Homo sapiens: one gene and its partner. The protein of the gene in region 2 purifies or fractionates together with the protein of the main gene of each other region. This does not show direct contact. Each region holds a gene or a part of one and is shown on either strand. Other genes may lie near its edges.

Region 1 (3,753 bases), on a different chromosome or scaffold from region 2:
GCAAAAGTAATTGCGGTTTTTGCTATTTGAAAGTCGTAGCAAAAACCGCAGTTACTTTTGCAGCAACCTAATACTTGGTGTTATTTTTCCAAGACAAATAGATATGTCTAATAAATTTTAGTGACTCGCTGATTTATTAATTAATTCAACCATTGAATAAACATTTAGTAAGCATCATCATAGACCAGGCATTATGACAAGCGCTGGTGAAGTAGCTGTGGACAAACCAGATGTGCCCCTGGCCTCGTGGAGCTTATGGTCTCTCTTATATTAGATTTATAATCTTCACTGCTTGTTCTGTCCATGTCCCTCCACTTCCCAAGCCTCCAAAAGAGTAGATTTGAGCATATTTCTGTCATTGAAGGCGTTTTTTTTTTGGCAGATTAAAAATTATATAGTACAAATCTTAGAAGAAAAATTCACAGGGTTTTACTGGCTCTAATGCCCTTTTAATGATTGTTAAGATCACCCTCTGAAATTTTCTTAGGAGATTTCTTTGAGCAAAGCTGAGGAGTGTATGGGTTGGTGTCCTTTTATGTAGTGTAGCAATATGTCACTTCCTCCTCTCCCCCTAATGCCCTTGTTTTCTTTATAAAACTGTCTTGCATTTAAGTTTCCTTTCTATCATACTGTGTAAGATAGAGACCTGGGATTACGAGAGAACTATGTAATGTTACTGTACAACTCAAGGAAAAGGCCAGAGAGGAAGCAACTTTTGTTAATAATGCTACTGCAAATAATTATTAAAATAATATTCATTATCATATACCAGGCAGTGTGTCTTGAATTTCTAGTGAGGTACATATTCTTTCCCCAAGAATAATGTCTTTATTGAGATCTGACAAAGTAATCTGCAAATTGCAAGACCTTAAGTATATTGTTGACTCATTGTTTCTTTAACATGTTTTTTTCTTCTTGATTAATACATTACAGGTCACTCTGGATCACGCTCAAATTCTTTTCATGGATTTAAAATTATTTTTATAATTTAAGACATGTACAGCTTCTTTTGAATTTCAGTGTTTGGCAGTGTTCTGTTATAAGCCTCCCAGAAACATAAGCATATCGTCATTTCAAAGTGGCCTCTTTCAGAGCCTTGGCTGCTGCAGAAATTTGTCTTATGAATCATTTGAACGAATACCACTTGTTGCTAATCCTTAGCAGTCTGAAAAAAATCCTATATTATAACCCAAGGATCAGGTAGAAATATGTGTATTTTAAACATACCAAAATGTTTTATGCTCTAATTCTTTTTAAAATATCACAAAGTTTAGGACCTAATACAGTGGATAGAAAACCTTTATTTCAAAAATAGCTCTTATTATGCTTAGCTATTGTGATTATATTTTATAGTGTTACAGAAGCCTCTTGAGATACCAGTTCTCTTTCGTGCTTCAATCATATGTTAGAGTGTGGCCCTTTCTAAATGTCCCAAGACAAAACTTTACCTTGGAAAAGTCTTCTATTCCTGTAGTTGAGATAGTTACAGAAAGGGGTTAGGCAGTCTCCTTTAGAAATCCCATTCCAGAGTAGTATATCAGGATTCCTTTTCTCAGACTTTTGTAACAAATATACACTTCTGGTAGATACTTGATTTTGAAAGTGGGCCTCCACCCTTCACTCACTCACTGAGTCAACCTTAGGACTCTCAAAAAAAACACTGTGTGTGTGTCTTTGTATTATGGGAATTTTCAAACATACACAAAAGTAGTGTGAAACTATGACCTTCCATGTCATTATATTCATCAGTTATCAACATTTTGCTACTTGTTTCATCTGGTTCCCCATTCTTTTTGTGGTGGTTGTTGTTATGGTTTTTGAAGTTTTTAATCCCACATACTACATTTTTTTACTCATAAACACTTTGGTGCATTTCTTACATTTTTAATGGTAGGTAAATTTTGAGACTAAAAATTGTTATATTTACTTTATTTTTGTTTTGTGTCTGAAATTAGCATGGTTCCCATTTTTGTTCCATGCTGAGAAGTTTAGTTTTCTTAGGTTCATTTTTGTTTCTTCTTGACTTCCTCCAACACCTTGTTTTATTCTTGTCATAGCCAGCAGTCATTATACTGGTTCCAATATAAAGACAGAGCATGACAGCTACATAATTTATATGTATGGATAAGCAATTTTAAAACTTTGCTTTCATCGACCATTTTTATTTCCTGGGAATCAGATCACTTGTGTAAAATTTTTATTGTAGGCATAAATTACCACTCTCCTGTTAGAGACTGTATGAATTTACTAATAGGAATGGAGTGACATTTTGAGTATAGATTAGTAAAAGGAAACTGGGTTATTGGGATAGACCTAGGCAAACATGATTTAGATTTTATCAGAGTTAAGAATTATTTTACTTGATAAGAGTCTCATGGATGTTTGTGCTCTAAAAGTAAGATAAATTGGCTAGCTTTGAAAAATAAATAAAAGAACGTGGGAAAATCTTGATTGTTTCTTCTTTACTTATATTGCCTCTATACTCAAACCAGCCATAGTAATTTCTCCAAGACTCTGATTCAGTGACTAATATCTTTTCAGCGGAGCTCCCACCTCCATATACAGCCATTGCCAGTCCAGACGCCAGTGGTATTCCAGTAATAAACTGCCGTGTGTGCCAATCACTAATCAATTTGGATGGCAAGCTTCACCAGCATGTGGTTAAGTGCACAGTTTGCAATGAAGCTACGGTAAGTGGAGATTTCCATTAGAAAAAATATAAATTGTTATTTGACATTTTATTCCTAAAGGAAGTACTTCAATAATGTTACTTAAAAGTATATGTGGGCTGGATACAAATATGGTAATCTTTTTTCCTGTCTTTTCTTCTGTCTCTCTTTCATCATAGGATACCTCACTGTGTTTAAAGCTAACCCCATTAAGAGAATTTCATGGTGAATTTAAATATAATGCCTTTTGGCTTTTTACTTTCAAAAACTAGACTGAGCATGGCAGTTACGTATAAATACTTTCAATATCTATCCACATCACAACTACATTCATTCTTGTTTTCATTAAAATGAAAATATTGTGTACTAAACTTCATTACAGATGTAAACTTTGCCCTATTTATGTGGAAAATTATTTGAAGTTATTTTATGTCTGTAGGATGTCACTATTGTTTTTCTGGGCTTTTGTGATTATGCATTTATTATTAGCATCTGTGCCAAAGTGTTTACAAATAGTTTGACATTTTATTCAATTTAGTTGATAGTAATTTAGGAATGTTTAAAATATTGAATAACACCTTTCCTTTTTTAAAAATTGAGCTTTGGGGAGCAACTAAATTTTCAGCAGTATTTTTATAGCTTCAAGTAATAAACTGGTAAAGCATACACTGGTTTAGATGAAATATATTTCTTTCATAGTTAGGCTTTATATATTACATTTTGATCTCTCAAAATCTGCAATTAAATATTAATTTTATCTTTGATGTTTTATTTTTTTCTCTTTAGAAAAGACTAAAAAAAGTCAGCCAGTGATTATTGTGTCTTGAAGGACCACAAAACATGAATACTTGACTTCATATGTTTTATAGAAAAATCATAAAATAAAACCTTAAGTTACAAAAGCAATATATTTCATTAGTTTTAATGGAATCCTTTCCTTTTTAAACACAAACAAACTTTGACAATCTGTACTTTGGTTAATTGCTGTGTTTGCATTTTCTTCCCTTATCCAGCCAATCAAAAACCCCCCAACAGGCAAGAAATATGTTAGATGCCCTTGTAATTGTCTTCTCATTTGTAAGGA
Region 2 (3,753 bases):
TAGCCTCAGTCTCCCACCTGGCCTGTGTCTTGCCAGCTGAGCTCCAGTTTTGACACACCATCAGTATAAAGTACCTGCCAAGGGAATTGACCTGGTTTGGCATCTTCTCCACCAACAACCCGAGTGAAGTCATTAAATGATTGGGTGCTTTGAGTGATGTTATCCAAAATGGTTTCAGCTTCAGTAGAATTTACATAGTCCACATCAGGAAAAACAGTCTCAGCACGGGTGAGCTTAGAAGTTTGTGAAACAGAAACTCTTCCACATGGAAATGGCACTAGAAAAATAGAAGAAAAATTAGTAACCTGATATTTCTCATTGGCAAATGGAACATGTATTACAAAAATTGAGATTGAGGCCCATCCTTGTCACTTCTGAGAAGCAGGCCCATCAGTATTTAAAAAAATCTAATCAGTGAATAGAGTCTCAAGCTAAAAGGTTGATTGCGTTATTTTCATGGACAGTTTTCAAATCCTTCATGAAAAGAACATTTGGCTCCGGAATTCATCATCTTTACGGAAATAGAATAGGTGTTCCAGAATCAAATTTGGTAAGACTTTTACAGAGTCTAATGACTTTGTGTTTAGTTTCTTTACTAAAAAGTCTTACTCCCAATTGCCATCCCTGAATGGAAGTCTTATGATTGATGCTTTGTAACTTTAACTTTCCAATTTGGTAAATGGGACTTCTGCTGCTTATGATTAAGAAGGTTTCTTTTGCAGACTAAAAGGCCTTCTAGATTCCAAGGTGCATTTTATATATTTTCTGGGGAGAGATCATTGTGATTCAATTATTTGGGCTTCAAATATTAGCCAAAGAGATTGCTAATATAATTATCACAGCCATATTCACCAGGACCTGCCCACCATTTTTCCTTGGGTTGGTTTATTTTCTAAAGAAAAATAATGTATTGATACACTGGGGACTACCAGAATGGGAATTTGTAGTCAAACAAAGTCACTTCACATTTCATTTTCATTTATCACTTTCCTTCAAGCCACATTCCTTGTAACAGACATTTCTATAGCAACCAGCTGCGACAAAGTATCATGAAGACAGCAAGTGGTTGAGAAAACAGGAAATTAGTTCAAAATACTTATGTATAAGTGTACACAATCAACAATGGCTACAGAAAAGGGACCTTTATCATTGAAAAGGCAGAAAAGCTTATTTTAAGTTTGGCCTACTTATTCTGCTAAAGCTAAGGCTATATTCAAATATAACACTTAATAGTTGGAGGTGGTTCTCAATTCTGTTTCTCTTTTATAGCATAGAAGAACTTGTAAGGGTTTAGCTAGTATGCCATCTGTCTATACTGGAAGTTAGGTTTTTAAGGTTAAAATACACAGACACACACCCACACACATATTCATGCTCCTCTCAAGGTAGACTAGCTTTGAGACAGTGTATGTGAAGAACCAGGCAGAAGAACAAGTGGGCAGGCCCTGAAGCCTTAGAGATTCTTCATTTTATTTGCAGGATATATATTCCTAGCTTCTGGTTTGTTGGGAACAGGCCTCCAAATCTGGCCATAAACTGGCCCCAAAACTGGCCATAAACAAAATCTCTGCAGCACTGTGATATGCTCGTGATGGCCTTGATATCCACACTGGAAGGTTGTGGGTTTACCAGAATGAGGGCAAGGAACACCTGGCCCACCCAGGGCGGAAAACTGCTTAAAGGTGTTCTTAAACCACAGACAATTGCATAAGTGATTTGTGCCTTAAGGACATGTTCCTGCTGCAGATAACTAGCCAGACTCATCCCTTTATTTCCCATAAGGAATACTTTCAGTAAATCTTATGACTGGCTTGCTGTCAATAAATATGTGGGTAAATCTCTGTTCGGGGCTCTCAGCTCTGAAGGCTGTGAGACCCCTGATTTCCCACTCCATACTCTATATTTCTGTGTGTGTGTCTTTAATTCCTCTAGTGCCGCAGGATTAGGGTCTCCCTGACCAAGCTGATCTCGGCACTGGTTCTTTCTTTAATTTCTTCTGCCTGGTATAGTGCTGAGACAGGTACTGAAACAGTTACAGAGAAATGGTGCACAATTTAATGTACCAATTAATAAGATATCAGGCTTTAGAAATGCAAAAGAAATTATATCTAGTTTGCTTCAAAAAAGCCCCTCATTTATCAAATATAATTGACCCTGCAGAGCCTAAATTTTTCAAAAAATAAAAGTGTCTACTGCTTTCATCTTTAGATAACAGCCATACGAACATGGAGTGGAGATGTTCTGAATACACTAATCAGCTGTTAAAATGGTGGCATGGTTGGCATGACTGGGAAACATTGTTTTGTTCACAGCCATATAGATTGTGCTGATCAGCCTAGCAGAACATAAAACAGTTCATTGCCGGAATCATTCTGACACCAAGTGTGTAAACTCAGCTTAAGACCCAACAATAAAAAATAACTTTCTCAGAGTAAACTAGCCAGCCCAGATAGAATCATGCTTCAAACTTACCGTCCTTATACTAGAAGCCTATCACTCAATTATTTGTGTATATTTTATGATATAGTATTACTACATTGATTTGACTTGATGAATTACAAATACATATGCAGAAATCACACAAATTAATTGCTTTGTGATATAAATGTTAGAGAAAAAAATTGGACAAATTGGACACAGAAAGAATTCAGGTTGTAGATGATTACATAGTTTATATTTAAAATATGATGCAATCTAGAAAATTAATTGGTCTAATTCAAGCTACTGATATTTTCTATGATTTCAAAAGGAAGCAGATTCAAGTAGGAATTAAAATTATGTAGGTTTGTTAAAATGCTGAAGTTTCAGATACAGATTTTCTTTAAAAAATCTTATTCAGATTATGACCTGCTGGTTCACAGGACTTCTGGTTTTCTGCAAGTCGATATCCCTCAGTACAGGAGCAAACCACCTTGTTATCAGCACTATTTTTACAAAACTGCTCGCATCTGCCATTCTTAATGTTACATGTTACATCTAAAAGAAGCAAAATAGACAGTAACAGCATCATTTAACATGCATTTCTAAAAAGTACATGGAACTACTGACTCATGTATGGGTCAAATATACATTGGGGGCATTCATGTTGCCCCCAATATACGTTGGGGAGAGAAATTTTGGAGCCTTGAAATAAGAGTGGAAAGAAAGGTAAAATAAACTTCTCAATAATGCATAAAAATGATGGTAGCACTATAATTGATTGGTTTAAAACTAAATGTTTGGATATTCTACTTTCACTAAATTATGAACTACAGGTTTAAAAACCCTATTTATTAATGTATAACATATATTCAAAAAATACACACAATTTTAGTGTAAGTTTTCACAAAGTAAATGAGCCTGTTTAAACACTAAACTGACCAATACATAGCACATTATCAATACCCCAGAAGATGCCCCCTCCCAATCATTCCACCCTTTTTCCTTTTTATAGGTTACCATTACCTGGACTTCTAACACAGTAAACAGTTCTTGCCAGTTCTTGAATTATAAACAGAAGTTCGCAATATGTACTCGTCTGTGTCTTTCATTTAACATTTTGTCTGTGAGATTAAACCATGTTGTTTTGTACAGCAGTAGTTCATTTACATTGCTGTGTAGTATTCCACTGTATTACTATTACAGCTTTTATTTATTCATTCTACTGTTAATGGATATTTGGTTTGTTTCCAGTTTTTGGCTCTTATGTATAATAGTGTAATGAACATTCTTGTATATATCTTTTGGTGACATAAACATGCCTTTTTACTGGCT

Evidence for each region. Proteins that work in one complex are often made in the same cells at the same time.
Region 1: the proteins of F9 (region 2) and PIP4P2 purify together in Homo sapiens (affinity purification with mass spectrometry; 2 studies listed by BioGRID and IntAct, with this or other methods). This does not show direct contact.

The regions. Positions count from the first base shown.
Region 1 is NC_000008.11:91,020,193-91,023,945, reverse strand, and holds part of PIP4P2 (type 2 phosphatidylinositol 4,5-bisphosphate 4-phosphatase), read left to right. Parts: intron 1-2,541; coding exon 2,542-2,690; intron 2,691-3,682; coding exon 3,683-3,753. UniProt on the Homo sapiens protein: Catalyzes the hydrolysis of phosphatidylinositol-4,5-bisphosphate (PtdIns-4,5-P2) to phosphatidylinositol-4-phosphate (PtdIns-4-P).
Region 2 is NC_000023.11:139,547,586-139,551,338, reverse strand, and holds part of F9 (coagulation factor IX isoform 1 preproprotein), read right to left. Parts: intron 2,977-3,753; coding exon 2,848-2,976; intron 278-2,847; coding exon 75-277; intron 1-74. UniProt on the Homo sapiens protein: Factor IX is a vitamin K-dependent plasma protein that participates in the intrinsic pathway of blood coagulation by converting factor X to its active form in the presence of Ca(2+) ions, phospholipids, and factor VIIIa.